Linked DNA regions of Homo sapiens: region 1 is linked to region 2. The links come from fine-mapping of genetic effects on gene expression. A gene starts in region 2. The other region holds a variant in brackets. All regions are shown on one strand. Distances are from middle to middle.

Region 1 (9,217 bases), 210 kb after region 2:
CCCCAGCAAATTTTTGTATTTTTAGTAGAAATGGGGTTTCGCCATGTTGCCCAGGCTGGTCTCAAACTCCTGAGCTCAGGCATTCCATCTGCCTTGGCCTCCCAAAGTGCTAGGATTACAAGCATGAGCCACAGTACCCAGCCCCTTATGCCTCTTAACTTTACATCTCCGGGTCAGAATATGATGGGGAATTCTCCCTTTCTCGAGGACCTCCAAGGAATGTGATGTCTGTCACTCCCAATTCTCCTATTGAGAAGGAAAAGCCAGTACAGGACAGAATACTCTGGGCCAGATAATTTCCATCTTTGTTTCACTTAATCCGCATAACAACCTTGAAAGGCAGATGTTAATTACACCCATTTCACAGATGCAGAAACTACAATTCAGAGAGATTAGGAAACATGCCCACAGTCATCTGGCTGGTAAAAGGTGGGGCTGGGAGTGAACCCAGATCTTTGCAGAATTACACCTCACGGCCTTCCCTGGGCCGTGGCTCTTTTTCCACTGCCTGGTAGGCCTGTTTGAAGAATTAAACAAGGTATCAGACTCATCTGAATATTGTAAGAAAAAAAAAAAGAATGAAACAAGGTAATGCTTGAGAAACCCTTGGCACCTGATCCATATTAAGTGACCCTCTCAGAGCAAAGTCATCACTCAAATGACAAGGGCAGAAATATGCAGAGCTGCTTTTCACAAAGGTGCTCAACCTTGACTGCACATTGAAATCACCTGGGAAGCTTGTAAAACTCCACATACTCGGACTGCGCCTCAGCCTGATATGATCAGAGCCTCTGGGGGCAAACCACAGACATGACTGGCTTTTAAATTTCCCCGGGTGATTCTACTGTGTAGCCAAGGTTGGGAGAACTCTGGAGATGGTAGTTCAGTTCCAAGCCTCCCAAGAGGAAGCTGACTAGAGAGTCTAAGACATAAAGAATGTGTCCATCAGAAGGTGCAGAAAGGGGCCAGGCACAGTGTCTCACCTATAATTCCAGCACTTTGGGAGGCTGAGGCAGGCAGATCACTTGAGTCCAGGAGTTCGAGACCAGCCTGGCAACATGGCAAAACCCTCTCTCTACAAAAATACCAAAAAAAAAAAAAAAAATTAGCCAGGATGGTGACATGCACCTGTGGTCCCAGCTACTAGGGAGGCTGAGGTGGGAGGATCATTTGAGCCTGGGAGGCAGAGGCTGCAGTTAGCCAAGATCATGCCACTGCACTACAGCCTGGGCGACAGAGTGAGAAGACCCCGTCTCCCTCAGAAAGAGAGCATCACAGAGCCTGCCCTGACAGTGACAATCAGCCACATTTGGAGCAGAGGACCTGGCCAGGGCCAGGACACGTCCTGTCCTAGAGGCACTTTAGCCATGCACATGGAGTCATCGGGCCTTATTGAAGCTATATTGTGACCAACTGCTGGTTCTGATTCCCAGCTCGACAGGCCAGCTTCCCACCACATCATGGTGATGGGAAGAAAATGGACACATCACTTACATCTCTTTTTGTAAATGAACTAATTGACATTCTAATAAGAATTACTTTTGCTTTGACAGTTACAGTAAATCAACAGATTGACCTTCAGGTGTAATTTTGGTATATATAGACCTTCCCTGAAAGACAATTCCCATTGGTGAGCTGAGGAATCTGGTTTCTGATTCAGGCTTCTCCCTTGGAGTGGGGTGAATTCACCAATAAACCATCTTGAGATATCTTGGGAGATGTCAGCCAGCCTCATCTGATGCAACCAGCCTAGCCACGGACTTCACGTCTAACTTTCAGAGCAGAGACTCCATGTCAGCAAATTCCTCGCCTCCTTCCCTCCTCTCCTATAGTTTTGGCTTTTTGTATTGTTTTGTTTTTGTTGTTGTTTTGTTTTGTTTTTGTTTTTGTTTTTGAGACAGAGTCTCACTCTGTCACCCAGGCTGGAATGCAGTGGCGCGATCTTGGTTCACTGCAACCTCCGCCTCCAGGTTGAAGTGATTCTCCTGCCTCAGCTTATTGAGTAGCTGGGATTACAGGCGCCCGCCACCACGCTCAGCTAATTTTTGTATTTTTAATGGAGATGGGGTTTCACCATGTTGTTCAGGCTGGTCTCGAACTCCTGACCCCAGGTGATCTACCCACCTTAGCCTCCCAAAGTGCTGGGATTACAGGCTTGAGCCACTGTGCCCAGCCTGTTTGTTTTCTGAGACAAGGTGTTTCTGTGTCACCCAGACTGGAGTGCAGTGGTTCAATCTTGGCTCACTGCAGCCTAAACCTCCTGGGCTCAAGTGATCCTCCCAACTCAGCCTCCTGAGTAGCTGGGACTATAAACGCATGCCACCACCACTGGCTTTTTTTTTTTTTTTCAACAGGGTCTCGCTCCATCACTCAGGCTGGAGTGCAGTGGTGCGATCACAGCTCACTGCAGCCTCAGCCTCCCAGGCCCAAGCAATCCTCCTGCCTCAGCCTCCTGAGTCACTGGGATTACAAGTGTGCACCACCATACCCAGATAATTTTTAAATATTTTGTAGAGACAGAGTCTCCTTATGTTGCCCAGGCTGGTCTTGAACCTTGAGCTCAATGGATCTTCCTGCCTTGGCCTCTGAAAGCACTGGGTTTATAGGTGTGAGCAACTATGCCTGGCCCCCTCCTATAGTTTTTCCCTGGCCAATATCCCTCTTATAAATCCACAGAGCTTCTCACTCTCTGCAGGGAATATTAGGTCATTCACATACCTGGGTTCAGTCCCTACACCGCAGTCATCGTGATGCTTACACCCCAGACACCCCAGACGTGTGTCCTCCTTCAAACAGCCTATTCCCACCCACTAAGCCTCTGCCCATGTGTTCCGACTCCTCCCTCCCTTCCTTCCTCTGCTTCCTTCCTCTTTCCTCTTCCTTCTCCATCTAGTGACAGCTTATTCACTGTCTAAAACCCAACTCGAATCCCACTCTCTCGACCTTTCCCTGAACAACATTATTTACTTTGTTGTCTCTGCTCCCATAGTACTTTGGACAGAACTCTGCCATGGAGGTTCACAAACTGAACTCTAGTTCCTTGACCACGTGTGTCCTCCCCTCACTCCCCACACTGAACCTGGCTTTGGTGGCCTGGTGCCCAGCATGGTGTTGTGCCCGTGTGTGGATGCTTAAATACATCTTTGAAATTTGAATAAATAGTAAACATTGTTATACATGAGTCATGTTTTTCTCTTTAAAAGCCACATCATATCCATTTGCTCATTGGACTACTTCAAAAGAGAAGCTCTAAGGACATCCAAAGATCCTAAGTGAAAAATCACCCTGGCTGCACGGGTCAAGCCAGGACACAGGGCCAAAGGTCGGTCAGCACTGACACGCTGAGCCCAGGCGTTTGCTTTCCAGATGAGACCTGCACCGCTGGACCAGCAATGCAGCAGAGGCAGCAGGAAGAGGGAGATGGAGCCAAAGGGTTTCTGGACAGGCGGTTGCTGGCAGATCTATAAATCGATGCCCCACAATGGGCTGTCACTGAAACAGGCCAGGAGTAGCCCAGAGCCTGGAGGTAGACCTGAGAGGGCAGGGTGTGGGAAGATTAGAAGCATAGGCTAGGCCAGGCACAGCGGATCGTGCCTGTAATCCCAGCACTTTGGGAGGCCGAGGCAGGTGGATCACCTGAGGTCAGGAGGTCAAGACCAGCCTGGACAACATGGTGAAACCCATCTCTACTAAAAATATAAAAAAAAATTAGCTGGGCATGGTGGCACATGCCTGTAATCCCAGCTACTCGGGAGGCTGAGCCAGGAGAATCACTTGAACCTGAGAGGCGGAGTCTGCAGTGAGCCAAGATCGCGCCATTGCACTCCAGCCTGGGCAACAAGAGGAAAACGCTGTCTCAAAAAAAAAAAAAAAAAAAGCATAGGCTAGAAATTGGACCACAAAATAATATAGAATTTGACATGTGGGTGAAGATGGGTGTTTTGGGGGCTGCAAATCAGTCATGTTCTCCTCAATCTGCGTAAGCAGAGGCAATGCGGTATAGTGGTTTACAGTGTGGCTTCTGGAACTAGGTTCCTGGGGTTTGGATCCAGCACATGTGACACATGTGACCTTGAACAAGTTATTTAACTTCTCTGGACTTCACTTTCCTCACTTGTAAAAGGGGAACAGTAATAAAATCTACCTCAGGATTTTTATGAAAATTAAATTAGTAAATCCATGTAATTTTTCTTTTTTTTTTTTTTTGAAATGGAGTCTCGTTCTGTCACCCAGGCTTGAGTGCAGTGGCATGATCTCGGCTCACTGCAAGCTCTGCTTCCCAGGTTCATGCCATTCTTCTGCCTCAGCCTCCGGAGTAGCTGGGACTACAGGCGCCCACCACCACACCTGGCTAATTTTTTGTATTTTTAGTAGAGACGGGGTTTCACCATGTTAGCCAG[G/A]ATGGTCTCAATCTCCTGACCTCATGATCCGCCCGCCTTGGCCTCCCAAAGTGCTGGGATTACAGGCGTGAGCCACCGTGTCTGGCCCATGTAATTTTTCAGAACAAGTCCCTAGCTTATAGTAAATGCTCAATGAATGTGAGCTATTATTTAATATTTTATTAAGTAGCATCTATGAGGTATTGAAGTGACTGTGTAAGGAAACCACGGTAGCTCACATCTATAATCCCCATACTTTGGGAGGCCGATGCAGGAGGATTCCTTGAGCCCAGGAGTTCAAGACCAGCATGGACACTCCAGTAAGACCCTGTTTCTACCAAAGAAATTTTGTTAAGTTAGCCGGGTGTGGTAGCAAGCACTTGTAGTCCTGGCTACTTGGGAGGCTGAGGCAGGATGATCTCTTGAGCTCAGGAATTCAGGGCTGCAGTGAGCTATGATGGATTGCACCATTGCACTCTGGCCTAGGCAGCAGAGCAAAACACTGTCTCTAAAAAAAAAAAATAGAAGGAAAGAAAAAGGAAACCACCCGAAAACATAGTGGCTTAAAACAACAAACCAATACCTTGCTCACAGTTCTGTAGGTCAGCAACCTGGCTCAGGCTCTGTTGGGCAGTTCTGCCAGATTCTCCTGGGATTGCTCCATGGATCACTCACATGGACTGGGGCTGGGTGGTCTAAGGCGGCCTCACTCTCAGCGCTGGTGACTGGGGGTGGCTGTCAGACAGGCCCCATGTTGTAGTAACCTGTCTCCAGGAGGCTGCCCGGACTTCTCCCCCTTGTGAGCTGGGGTTCCAATTGTAGCCCAAAGAGGGTAAGCCCTGGCTTTTCAAGCTTTTGCTTAGATCACATTTGTTTTTTGTTGTTTGTTTGTTTTTCTGAGACAGTCTCACTCTGTCACCCAGGCTGGAGTGCAGTGGCGCGATCTCAGCCCACGGCAATCTCCGCCTCCCAGGTTCAAGCAATTCTCCTCCCTCAGCCTCTTGAGTAGCTGGGACTGCAGGTCCCCGCCACCAGAGCCGGCTAATTTTCGTATTTTTAGTAGAGACAGGGTTTCACCATGTTGGCCAGGCTGGTCTTGAACTCCTGACCTCAAGTGATCTGCCCGCCTCGGCCTCCCCAAAGTGCTGGGATTATGGGTGTGGGCCACCACACCTGGCCTACTTATATCACATTTGTTAATGTCCCATTAGCCAAGGCAAGTCACAAGATCAAGCCCAGATTCAAAGGATGAAGACATTTACATCTTGATGGGAAGAGAGGCAAAGTCACAATGCAAAAGAGCACACGTCAGGGATGGGAGCATTTTCACAGCCGTGCGAACAGTGTACTATACTGGGCACCAGACATGTAAGCAGAGCTCAGTTCTGGAGGCTGGAAGGAATGCTTTCTTGGCCCTCGGGGCTCAGGATAGCAGGTTAAGATGCAAGCAAAACCATTATGATGCAAGGTCTGAATGCGATAAGTGCCCCAACGTAGGAGTTCAAACCAGACAGATCTTTTGCAGCTAATGAGGGGTGGAGGTCAATGGGTTGAGAAGGCTTTATTTTCTTGACCTTGAAGTGTGGTTAGAATCTGGTCATACAGACATGGGGAAAATGATATTCCAGGTGGAGGAAAAAGCAAAGTTGGAAAAACCAAGGCATGTTTGGGAAATCCAAACTTATCTAATATATCTGGTGTGTGGCCATCAAGGGGAACTGCACAGCATAAAACTAGAAAGATAAGCTGGGGTCCAATGCAGGTGAGCTTGTGTTTGAACTTCAGTTTGAACTTCATTCTGTAGGCAATGGGGAGCCACTGAATATTTTTCAGGTGACAAGTGAAAAGAACTGTATTGTAAGAAGACTCCTTGGCCTGTATTCTATAGGATGGCTTGGGGTGGGGAGCAAGAAGAGGAGAGGTGATCACAGGTAATGAAGGGACTGTGGGCGGGCGGCGGGGAGGGGGCGGGCCTAGGCAATGGGGTTGGCCCGGGGCAGCACGAGTAGAAAGTATCTGGACAGATCCTGATGAGTGACTGCAAATGTGACATGAAGAGGTGTCAAGGTTGGCTCCGAAGTTGCCAGGCTCACTGCCCAGAGGATGGCAGAGAGCAGGAGATTCATTTACAAAGCAGGGGAGTCTGAGCAACAACAGGTGTGAAGGGACCCTATGGATGTGGGGACTGTATGGGACATCCAGGTGGTGTCCAACCAAGGTCTAACGTCATGCTAAGGAAGGAGGAGGAAGAGAAAGGAGAGGAGACTTTGTCAAAGCAACACTGAACACAGTGTTTCAAGGTGCTTAACAGTCAAGTATTAGATGTGGCCAAATGATTAAGGAAGAAGAAAGATGAGTAGAGGCCAACCAGCTGATTTGACAATGAGGAGGTCACAGGTGACTTCCTAGGAGAGCAGAGGAGGCTGAAGTCCCCAGGCTTTCTTTTCTTTTTTTCTTTTTTTTTTTTTGAGACGGAGTCTCGCTCTGTCGCCCAGGCTGGAGTGCAGTGGTGCGATTTTGGCTCACTGCAAGCTCTGCCTCCTGGGTTCACGCCAATCTCCTGCCTCAGCCTCCCTAGTAGCTGGGACTACAGGCGCCCGCCACCATGCCCAGCTAATTTTTTGTGTTTTTAGTAGAGACGGGGTTTCACCGTGTTAGCCAGGATGGTCTTGATCTCCTGACCTCATGATCCACCCGCCTCGGCCTCCCAAAGTGCCCAGGGTTTCTTTTTTTATTTTATTTTATTTTATTTTTTTGAGACAGAGTCTCACTCTGTCCCCAGGCTGGAGTGCAGTGGTGTGATCTCGGCTTACTGCAACCTCCGCTTTCTGGGTTCAAGGTATTCTCTTGCCTCAGCCTCTTGAGTAGCTGGGACTACAGGGCATGCCACCATACCCAGCTAATTTTTGCATTTTTAGTAGAGACGGGGTTTCACCATGTTGGCCAGGATGGCCTCCGTCTCCTGACCTCGTGATCCGCCCACCTCGGCCTCCCAAACTGCTAGGATTAGAGGCGCGAGCCACTGCACCTGGCCCCCAGGCTTTATTTTTATTTGTTAGTTTGTCTCACTCTGTCACCCAGGCTAGAGTGCAGTGGTGGGATCTCAGCTCATTGCAACCTCTGCCTCCTGGCTCAAGTGGTTCTCCCACCTCAGCCTCTCAAGTAGCTGGGACTACAGGCACATACAACCACACCCAGCTAATTTTTTTTAGGGGGTTTTTTGTGGGTTTAATTTTTGTGGGTTTCTTTTTTCTTTTTTTTTTTTCTTTTTGTAGAGGTGGGGTTTTGCCATGTAACTGAGGCTGGTCCAAGCTTTATTTTTTATATTTTATTTATTTTAATTTAAATTTTGTATGGAATGCTTCACGAATTTCACGACTTGTGCAGGGCCCACACTAATCTTCCCTGTACCACTGCAATTTTAGTATATGTGCTGCCAAAGCGATGACTGAAGTCCCCAGGCTTTGAGGAGGGAGCAACAGGCATCCTGCTTTCTGGGATTCGAAGTTGGAGAGAACCCCTAGACTTACATGACCCTCTCTTTCCACTTCACACCCACTAGAGTGAATGAAATGTTAAAAATAAACACTGCTGTTCCCTTCCACCCTAAAGAAGAGAGGCACGCTAGACTCTCCCTGCTCCTCTCCCTGTCTCTCTGGCCTGCTGGCTGGAGATCAGGCACCACCAGGCAGACAGGCGCTGGCGGGACAGGCGGCTGTTTACTGCTAGTAGAGTACTGCTGTGTTTTCACAGCTCAGAATAGCTCTATAGCCACCCCCAGGCCTGGGGACCTAGGAGCCTCACTGTTTATTTTCATGACAATTCTGGGCCTCACCTCTTCCCTTCTCTGAGTCAAGGTCCTCATTTGAGAACTCTCAGAGGGGGTAAGGTGTGGGTTAAAGGGTCCAAGACTACTAATTTCCTAATTATCTGTCCCAGCTGGCTCTGGAAGAGGGGAGGACGAATAACTGACTGTACAACACGGGCGTTTTGGTTGGGATGGAATTTCCCCTGCTTTTAAAGAAAGAGTTGATTAAAGGACTGCATGGCCAGAGCCGGTGGGGAGGAAAACGTGGGAATGAAAGAGGGTAGAAGGGATGACCCCATCTGGATTGCGACAGGTTCTGTGTGAGGAGCTTTCACTAGAGAATTATGGGGGCTTCTCTGACTCATGGTGCCCCTCAAATCAGGCTGGGTTCTGGCTGCCCTGGTGTTTAAAAGGTATTCAGAGGTAGGGGAAGACTGGCTTCACAGAATACTCTTTTGAACTCTGAATTTTTTTAATAATGTGAGTGTATTACTTTTGAAAATATTTTAGGCTCACTCCTGTAATCCCAGAACTTTGGGAGGCCGAGGCGGGTAGATCGCCTGAGTTTGGGAGTTCGAGACTAGCCTGGCCAATGTGGTGAAACCCCATCTCTACTGAAAAAAAAACAAAAATTAGTCAGGCCCTGGTGGCCTGTGCCTGTAGTCCTGGCTACTCAAGTGGCTGAGGCACAAGAATCACTTGAACCCGGGAGGAGGAGGTTCCAATGAGCCAAGATTGTGCCCCTGTACTCCAGCCTGGGTAACAGAGTGAGACCCTGTCTCAAAAAAAAAAAAAAAAAAAAAGGCCAAGCATAGTGACTCACACCTGTAATCCCAGCACTTTGGGAGGCCGAGATGGATGGATCATCTGAGCTCAGGAGTTCAAAAACAACCTGGGCAACATGGTGAAACCCCATCTCTACTAAAAATGCAAAAAGTTAGCCGGGCGTGGTGGCGCGTGCCTGTAATCCTAACTACTCGGGAGGCTGAAGCAGGAGAGTTGCTTGAACCCAGGAGCCGGAAGTTGCAGT
Region 2 (9,217 bases):
TCGCACGTGAACACCATCCTGCCCGTTGTGATTGTGTAAAACAAAGACCAGGAATCAATGCGAGCGTGTCTAGGAGGCCATCTCGGCCGTGGCCTCTCTCCACATGAGAGTGGCCTGTACTGAGAGATTACCTAGGAATGGAGATACCACAACCATCTTCCAGGTCTGGATCCCAGGCCCTTGCCTGCAGAGAAGTTTTTTCCCATATCCAACCTCTCTCTTTCCGGCCAGCTCAGTGCATTTCCTCTGACCCAGTCCCCAGAGAAGATGGAGAACAGCAAATATCCCTCACCCCCACCACACCCGTGATAACTACTCTGGAAATTTGCAGATTGCAATCCCTCCTAGGTTTTTCTTCAAGGTGGAAAAACTTCAACTCAAATTTTACAATTCATTTTTTCATTTTTTCTTTCCATCACAGACACTAGGAAGGGATTGTAAAGTGGTTATGAAATCCAAACGCCCACCAAAAACGGGAATCCCCTGCCCCTCCCCCTCCCCCCACACCACGCAAAGGCCCACAGCGTCCCCGACAGTCTGAACATTCCAATAGCGGGAACTCAGTATTTGCTAAGGCAGCCATTACTGGAGAGCGCTCTGGTTGTTAGAAAGCTCTTCCTTACAGTATTGCAAGAGGAACCACCGCCCCTCCTTGCCTGGCAGCTTTCCCACCTCACCTCTGTTGGCTGAGGCCAGGTGACGGTGGAGGGGGTGTCAGTGGCTAGAGCTTTAGCAGACTCAGCAGCCCCCCACCCCCACCCAGGCCCTCAGCGTCTTCCACTCAGAGAGCCAAGCGCGGGGCAGGGCGGGGGGTGGGGCGGGGGCGGGGTGTTAACCCACCGGTTCTGCCCCGCCACAAATCACTTCCAAGTCGGTGACTCAAAAATAGTAACAGTTGTTGGGTTGCATCTCATTTCCATGTTATCAATTTAATGTGGCAAGGCACAGAGGTAGTCCCTTTAGGTCCCTGCCTCTTTCTCAGTGTTCCCCCACCTACTCCCCTTTCCCACGACCCTCAGCCTGCCCCCTCCTCTAGATTCGCAGCCCTAGTTGTCCCAGGAGAGACTGTGGGTCTCCGTGGGAGCTGAGCAGGAAGAAAGGCGGGGCCGGCGGGGGCAGCCGCGGCGGGGTTGAGGCCCTGAGGGGCAGCTCCCACCCCGTAGCAGCCTCCGCAGGTCCTGGCGGAAGCGCAGGCCCAGGAAGGCGTAGAGAACGGGATTGAGGCCACAGCGGGCGAGGGCCAAGCCGCTGGTCACCAGCAGTGCGACATCCTTGCGTTTGCTGGCAGGGCAGCTCCGCTCGCGCGCAGCCAGTAGATCGGCAGTATCCAGCAGCAGGGCGAGGCTGTAGGGCAGCTGCAGCACCACGAAGGCCGCCACCAGAGCCACCACGACGCGCAGCGCACGCCGGCGCTCGGGCCCCCTGGCGGCCAGCAGCGTGCGGCCCAGAAGCGCGTAGCAGGCTACCATGACGCCCAGCGGCAGCGCGAAGCCCAGGGCCACCTGCGCCACGGCGCTCGCCCCCTTCACCGTCTGCGTGAGGCCCTCGGGGAAGATGAGGCGACAGCGTCGTTGGCCTTCCCGCTGCCCATCCTGGCTGAAGAGCAGCGCAGGCAGCGCCAGGAGCAGTGACAGCAGCCACACGATGACGGAGACCAAGTGTGCGCGGCCGGGAGTGGAGGGCCGCGGCCCGGCTGGGAGCGCTCGCGCGATGGCCACGTAGCGGTCGGCGCTGATACAGGCCAGGAAGAGGAAGCCGGCGTGGAAGGAGGCCGAGTAGAGGCCAGAGATGGTGCGGCAGGTGGCACTTCCCAGACTCCAGCCCTGAAGAGCCCCTGCTGCCGCGAAGGGCAGAGTCAGGGCCAGCAAGAGGTCGGCCAGGGCCAGCTGGAGCAGGTGGGCAGAGGTGGGCGAGCGCGCTGCGCGTCGGGCTGCCAGGTGGGTGGCCAGGACCAGGCCATTGCCGGCCAGACCCAGCGCAGCCACGGTCAGGGAGACACTGGGTTGGAAGGCCCGGCTGAAGGCCTGGACATCGGCCTTGTAGCAAAGCTCCGGCAGTGGCTCAGCCGAGTATGCGTCCTCTTCATCCCCAGAGTAATGGCCCCAGGAAACCTGGGAGGGTCAAATGAGAGGCGGGATCTTATGAGACACATCTGACCACACAACTCCCCCGCCCACACTTGCCTTCCAAGCTGAGAGCTCCTGTGTGGCCAGATGTAACAGTACACGGGGAGACATAAGCTCTTCTCCAGACTCTTCCTAGCACACCTTCAGCAGGCCTTGGCTTCCCTTGCACCCCTCCTACCTCTGCTTCCAGCTTCCTGGGTGACCTTGAGCAAGCCACTTGCTCTTTCTAGACCTCAGTTACCTAACCTGTAATGTTGAGATTATAAATCCTGACCAGCCCACCTCTCAAGGTTTGCTGTGAAGATGGCAATATGGAAAATAATGGATGGGGAGAACCTGTGTTCTCCAAAGGCCATAATACAAAGTTTGTATTATTATTATTATTTATTATTATTATTATTGGAGACAGAGTCTTGCTCTGTCGCCCAGGCTGGAGTGCAGTGGCACGATCTCGGCTCACTGCAACCTCCGCCTCCGGGTTCAAGAGATTCTCCTGCCTCAGCCTCCCAAGTAGCTGGGACTACAGGCGCCCACCACCACGCCCAGCTAATTTTTGTATTTTTAGTAGAGATGGGGTTTCACCATGTTGGCCAGGATGGTCTCGAACTCCTGACCTCAGGTGATCCGCCCACCTTGGCCTCCCAAAGTACTGGGATTACAGGCCTGAGCTACCACGCCCAGCCCAAAGTTTGTATTATTAATAAATCCTACAGCTTCAGTTCCCTTTGCAGCGCCCTCTCCTGGAAGGATGCCCATATGCAGGCTTTGCCTCAGACCTGAGCCCTGGACTCCAACCTCCGTCTGGAGTGGGTTTCTGTTTCTCTTCTTTCCCTTCCATACCCACCTTCCCTGTACCTCCAATACCAGCACACTGAACCACTCATGCCAAGGGGGTCTCCAGGGTTGGGACTCAGGTTTTCAGGGCCCAGGTGGGACCCTGGACCTCTAGGTTCAACCCGCCTTTCCCCTCAGCCCTAGTCCCTGTCCCACAACCCCAGCCTCACACCACCAGCCCATTTATCTGGAGGACCCCTAGTCTGAGACAGCGCCAAGAATCCTGAATAAGCCATAGGATGGCAGAGGCCCATTGCCAGGTGGGGAATCCCATTCCTTCCCTGTCTCCTCCCTCTCTGTAACCCTTCTCCCCCTCCCTGCCCCCACTCCCACCTGCTCTGTGGCCTCCGTCCCCATCTCTGGCTACACAGGTTTCTGAGGTATAGCCACAGGGGGTAGAAGTTAAACTACTAGCGGGACAGGAAGGAAGAGGCGGGGAGAGGGGCCGAGAGGGAGGTGGGGATTAGGGTCTACGGGGTCACTTTCCCATTCCACCTCCTCCAAAAGACTTCACTCTCTTGTGCAGGATCTGGATTTTACGAAAAAAAAAAAAAGAAGAAGAAAGGAAGGAAAGAGGAAAGAAAGAAAGAAAGAAAGAAAAAAAGGAAGGAAAGAAAGAAAAAAGAATGAACGAAAGAAAGAAAAAATAATTTACTGTCTTTGTCAGTGAAGAAAGAACGGGCTTCGGAATATAATCATTTGCTGTGTGATATTGACTAAGTTTCTTGACCTCTCTGAGCCTGAGGTTTTTCATCTGCAAAGTGGAGTAGGGCAAAAATGCTAAATTCACAGTGCCCAGCACCACTCCTAGAGCATAATTTGCCTTCCGAAAATGTTAAGATTCTTTTACTTACCCTTCATTCCATTTCCAGGCACCCCTCCCCCAAACCACCTCCCTTTTCTTGAAATTTTCAGGATGCTTCTGGCCCTAGGTTCCCTGTCCTCACTCCTGTGGCCCTAGTCCCGGGCAGCCTCGGGTTACTTGGGGTTTTCCCGGTGGCGAGAGGCTCTCTACCCCCGCCCTTTCGCAGCAGGGCTGAGGCACGCGCTTGCGCGGGGTCCGGGAAACCGGCGCGTGCCAGGAGACAGAGGCTGGGGAAGGGGGGAGGTGAGAGGAAAGAGGGTGGAAAGGAGAGGATAGAGAGAGAAGAGCGGAGGACCAGGAACCAGAGAGAGAGAGAGAGAAAAGAGAGAGGAGAGACAGAGCGCTTGGGGGCGAAAGGAGAGAGGGAGGGAAGGGTGGGTAAGGAGGAGAGAGCGGTCTGCTGCAAACCCCAGGAGGAGAGCTTGGAGCCCAAGCCAGAACTCGAGCCCTAGCCGGAGCCGTTCACAGGGAGGCGGCTGCCGGGACCGTCAGCCCTGCATGATGCATCTCCGGCTCTTCTGCATCCTGCTCGCCGCGGTCTCAGGAGCCGAGGGCTGGGGCTACTGTGAGTGTTGGGCTTGGAGGCAGGTGGGGTTGGGCCCAGGAGTCCAGAGCCTGCAGGGCGGCCCCGAACCGCATTGCGGCTGGGTGGTCGCGGGTCCTTCCCGGCCGGCGCGCGCCCGCTGGCTCTCATCTTTTCCTGCCTCTCCCCCGCGCTCCGCATTGCAGCTCTGAGGCTGCCGCGCGCGCCCGGGGCTGGGGCTGGGCTCTGGGAAGAGGATGAAGTCAGCGGGCAGGGATTTGGGGTTGGGATCCAAGCAGGAGCTGGTGCCTGGGTTTGAGGCTAGGGCTGGGGGATAAGTGTATACTGGTGACCGATACTAGGATTAAGGTTTTGCCAGGGCTTAAGGCTGGACTTTGGAGCTGGCCAAGGGGTGGGGTTTGTGGCTAGGGCTGGGGTTTGTGGCTGGGGCTGGGTTTTGTGGCAGGGATCCAAGCAGGAGCTGGTGCCCCTGACTGATGCTAAGGCTGGACATGGAGCTGGTGATGGTGCTAGCACTGGCTGAGGTTGGGTGCAAGGCCTGTATTTGGGGATGGTGCAGGTTTTGGGGGCCGAGTTGGATTGAGGCTAGGGTTGGAGCTGGATTGGTGTCTTGGGTTGACTTAGGTTGTGGAAGATGCTGAGGTTTAGGATTGAGTTTGGGAAAGTACTAAACCAGGGCAGGTATTGGGCTAGCTAGGGAGGGTCTGGCCTTGGGCCTATAGGTGTAGCCTAGGGGTTTGCCTAGAAGGAGAAGGTAGCCTCCTCTGAGCATGCAGCTGTTGCTGCAGCCAGGATTGAATAGATGGCTTTAAGGTAGGGCTGGGTGTGCCTCTGGGGGCGGGGGTTGGGGGCACGGAAGGGGAAGCTTCGGTCGCTAAGTGGGCCGGCCTTTGGAAGGGTCTGGGAGGGGCCAGCGCTGACTAACAGTCGGTTTCCCTACCCTAGACGGCTGCGACGAGGAGCTGGTGGGTCCCCTGTATGCACGCTCCCTGGGCGCCTCCTCCTACTACAGTCTCCTTACTGCGCCGAGATTCGCCAGGCTGCACGGTGAGCTCCGCGGAACATCAGCTGCCAACTGGCAGCGCACCGCGGAAGGGTGGGGGCCTCCGGAGGACTTCGGGGAGAGGGATAGCCGGTTAAAGCTCCTGTCCTTTCTATAGGCATAAGCGGGTGGTCACCACGGATTGGGGATCCGAATCCCTGGCTCCAGATAGACTTAATGAAGAAGCACCGGATCCGGGCCGTGGCCACACAGGGCTCCTTTAATTCTTGGGACTGGGTCACACGTTACATGCTACTCTACGGCGACCGAGTGGACAGCTGGACACCGTTCTACCAGCGAGGGCACAACTCGGTACTCTGGGCGCCAAGGCGGTAACACTTGGGGAGCTTCCTCTGCTCCAGGCTCTGGGCCGGGCACCAGCCTCTGGGAAAATGGAGGGGGTGGTGGTGAGGGCTCGGACAAGGAGCAGTGACTCCACTCCAGGGACTCTGTCCAGAGGGACTGTCAGCTTAGGACGTGCGCGAAACACTCGGTTCACAGGGTTTAACACACTTTAGGGTAAAACCTGGGAGAGCTTCCTAAGGAGGTGACATTTGATTTCAGGTCTGAGGAAATAATAGGATTGTGGGACAGGGCACTTTATGGAAACTGTGCGGGCAAAGCCGCCAAGCAGGGAAGACCAAGGAGTGTTTACTTTCCAGAAGTCGAGATTGGCTGGGTGTGAAAGTTGTGGGCTGGGAGGCTATGGAGAAAGAAGCAGAGGGGGGCCGGGCGCAGTGGCTCACGCCTGTAATCCCAGCACTTTGGGAGGCCGAGGCAGGTGGATCACGAGGTCAGGAGTTCATGACCAGCCTGGCCAACATGGTGAAACCCCGTCTCTATGAAAAATACAAAAAAATCAGCCGGGCGTAGTGGCGGGCGCCTGTAATCCCAGCTACTTGGGAGGCTGAGGAAGAGAATTGTTTGAACCCGGGAGGCAGAGGTTGCGGTGAGCCGAGATCGTACCACCGCACTCCAGCCTGGGCGACAGAGCGAGACTCTGTCTCAAAAAATAAAATAAAAAAAAGAAGCAGAGGGCAGGACGTGGTTACTACTCTCCTCCACCCCCGCAGACCTTCTTTGGTAACGTGAACGAGTCGGCGGTGGTGCGCCATGACCTGCACTTCCACTTCACTGCGCGCTACATCCGCATCGTGCCCCTGGCCTGGAACCCACGCGGCAAGATCGGCCTGAGGCTCGGCCTCTATGGCTGCCCATACAGTAAGTGTGCAGAGAGCGCGGAGGGGGCCTGGGAGACAGCCTCCCCAGTTCCCGGCCCACCTACGGTCCTTTGCGCAGAGGCCGACATACTCTATTTCGACGGCGACGATGCCATCTCCTACCGCTTCCCGCGAGGGGTCAGCCGAAGCCTGTGGGACGTGTTCGCCTTCAGCTTCAAGACCGAGGAGAAGGACGGTCTTCTGCTGCACGCCGAGGGCGCCCAGGGCGACTACGTGACGCTCGAGCTGGAGGGGGCACACCTGCTGCTGCACATGAGCCTGGGTGAGCTCGGCGACCATGTGCGATGCGGAGCCAACCCCTGAAGCTCTCTCACCGCCCTCCTCGTGGCACCTCCTCCGCGCATCCGCGCTCAGCCTGGTCTTCCACTTCTCTAAGGCCTGGACCAAACTGCCCCTTTCTTGTAGCATTTGGTGCTAGCAAAACACTGGAGTTGAGTGAGAACTGGATTCCAGTCTCAGCTCTACCACTACACAGAGATGTGACCTCGGATGGGGCACTTCCGAGCCTCAGTTCCCTCCTTGTAAACACACACACACAGACGCACACACATTGTATCTCATTAGCTTTTCATAACACCCGCACATGAAATAGAAGCAGCTCATGTGTTCCCAGTTTTACAGACAGGAAGCCAGGCTAAATGGCTTACCCTGTCACACACTCGCCAATGGCTGTTGATCTATTCGCCCACTCTCCCTGATTGCCCTGGGCTTTGTTACACGCTGCTGCTCTGCCTAGGAGCTTGGACTCCATGGAGTTCTCCTGGCTTGAGGTTTCACTCTGTCCTGCCCCACCCTCAGGCAGCAGCCCTATCCAGCCAAGACCAGGTCACACCACCGTGAGCGCAGGCGGAGTCCTCAATGACCAGCACTGGCACTATGTGCGGGTGGACCGATTTGGCCGCGATGTAAATTTCACCCTGGACGGCTATGTGCAGCGCTTTATTCTCAATGGAGACTTCGAGAGGCTGAACCTGGACACTGAGGTGAGAGACTAGGGAGGTGCTATTTCGTGGTAGGGTAGATGCTGGATGAGTGAGTGCAGGTCGGTCTCTCCCTTTCTCTTTTCCTCTGTCTCTCAGAGGAAAGACCTGGCATTCAGGCTGTGGGTGGTGGCTCATGCCTGTAATCCCAGCACTTTGGGAGGCTGAGGTGGGAGGATTGCTTGAGGCCAGGTGTTCAAGACTCACCTGGGCAACATAGTGACATCCTACCTCTATTTAAAAAAATTTTTTTTTTCAAAGACCTCGCATTCCAATTCCTGAATATCCTAGCAGCCCTTGGCAAACTTGCCACTCACCAGAAAAAGGCCTGTTTTTTTTTTTTTTTTTTTTTTTTGTGGGTGTTGTTGCTGTTAGCATGCAGACTCCCAGGCACTATTTCAGAACTAATGAGATGGGGTTTGGAAATTCAGATTTTGGGGACTAGGCAAGGTAGGAAAATTGTTCCCTTGGATCCTCCCACAACTTTGTGGAGTTGTTAAAGACCCTGACCCCATCTGCAGATAAGAATCCCAGGCAGGCTAATTGACTTGCCCAAGGGCGTGCAGCCGATTTGTGTTGGAGTCAGAGCTTGAACTCAAGCCTTGAAAGGCCTAGCGAGCTTTAGTACCGACACTGGGGAAATGTGTGTTTTAAGTCTTTTACAAAACCCCATCTGGCATTTGGGAAAGCATACGGCGGGGACGCGCGAGAAAGGCAGGCGCCCTCCTGTGCCCAAGAGGCCTCATTCCCCACGCCTCCCGCAGATGTTCATCGGAGGTCTGGTGGGCGCCGCGCGGAAGAACCTGGCCTATCGGCATAACTTCCGCGGCTGCATAGAAAACGTAATCTTCAACCGCGTCAACATCGCAGACCTGGCCGTGCGGCGCCATTCCCGGATCACCTTCGAGGCCAGTGGGCAGGGGGGTCTGGGAGGACAGGATATCAAAGCGTCGTGGAAAGCAAAGAGGTGGAGCGGGAAGAGATATTGAACATCAGATAAAAGCGGAGAATCCCTCTGTCCCCAGCCAGATGCTCAAGTTGGGAGGGGAGCGGGTCTCACCTGAGGTGCATGAGCCACGCAGGCCCCTAGTTAAGAAGCAGTGGTCGGGTCCAATCACCTTCTTAGTTCATAGATGAAGAAAGTAAGGCGCAGACACAGGGAGTGGCTTGTCCAGGGGTCGTGCAGCTGCACGGTGGCTGAGTAGGGACTTGAACCGATGGCTTCTCTGATATGCCCCCCTCAACCCTCTCCGACTCTGGAGCTCTGTTGGGAAGCTGGCAGGAGCCAGGTCTGTGGTCCAAAATTGCCTCTCGATACTGGAAGGAGAGAAGCGGTCGAATCGCAGACGGTGGAGATCAGCGAGAGCAAGCGAGCAGAGTTCCGAGGGCCGACTGGGTTGGGGCCCCCTCCACAGATGGACGAGCTTGGAGGGGAAGAGGTCACGTCATGGTTGGAGATCTCACCCCCGCCAACACCGAAGGAGGGCGGTGACCAGGGTCTTAGACCGGTGTGAAAACTGAATTCCCAGCTGAGGCAGAGGCGGCTCACGGGTGTTGATGCGTCTTCACTTTTGCCCCTAGGGTA

Evidence for each region.
Region 1: its variant is fine-mapped to the expression of CNTNAP1 in whole blood (TOPMed, PIP above 0.99).

What each region holds. Positions count from the first base shown.
Region 1 is chr17:42,883,612-42,892,828 of GRCh38, forward strand. It overlaps LINC00671 (long intergenic non-protein coding RNA 671), which reads right to left. Exons shown (of 6, transcript NR_027254.1): 3 at 984-1,075. It also overlaps the pseudogene RNU6-287P. Among named protein-coding and RNA genes, the nearest start is that of LINC00671, 11 kb to the right of the region's middle. The variant G/A (reference allele first, on the strand shown) is at 4,401.
Region 2 is chr17:42,678,507-42,687,723 of GRCh38, forward strand. CNTNAP1 (contactin associated protein 1) reads left to right here and starts at 4,025. Exons shown (of 24, transcript NM_003632.3): 1 at 4,025-4,390; 2 at 5,315-5,416; 3 at 5,530-5,723; 4 at 6,485-6,632; 5 at 6,711-6,914; 6 at 7,451-7,635; 7 at 8,397-8,540; 8 at 9,214-9,217. The coding sequence starts at 4,324. CCR10 (C-C motif chemokine receptor 10) reads right to left here and starts at 3,337. Exons shown (of 2, transcript NM_016602.3): 1 at 3,294-3,337; 2 at 383-2,111. The coding sequence starts at 3,317. The coding sequence ends at 1,047. RefSeq lists enhancers at 642-1,490, 1,491-2,339, 3,558-4,176, 4,120-4,169, 4,430-4,479 and 1 more and silencers at 1-48, 2,725-3,019, 5,265-5,559.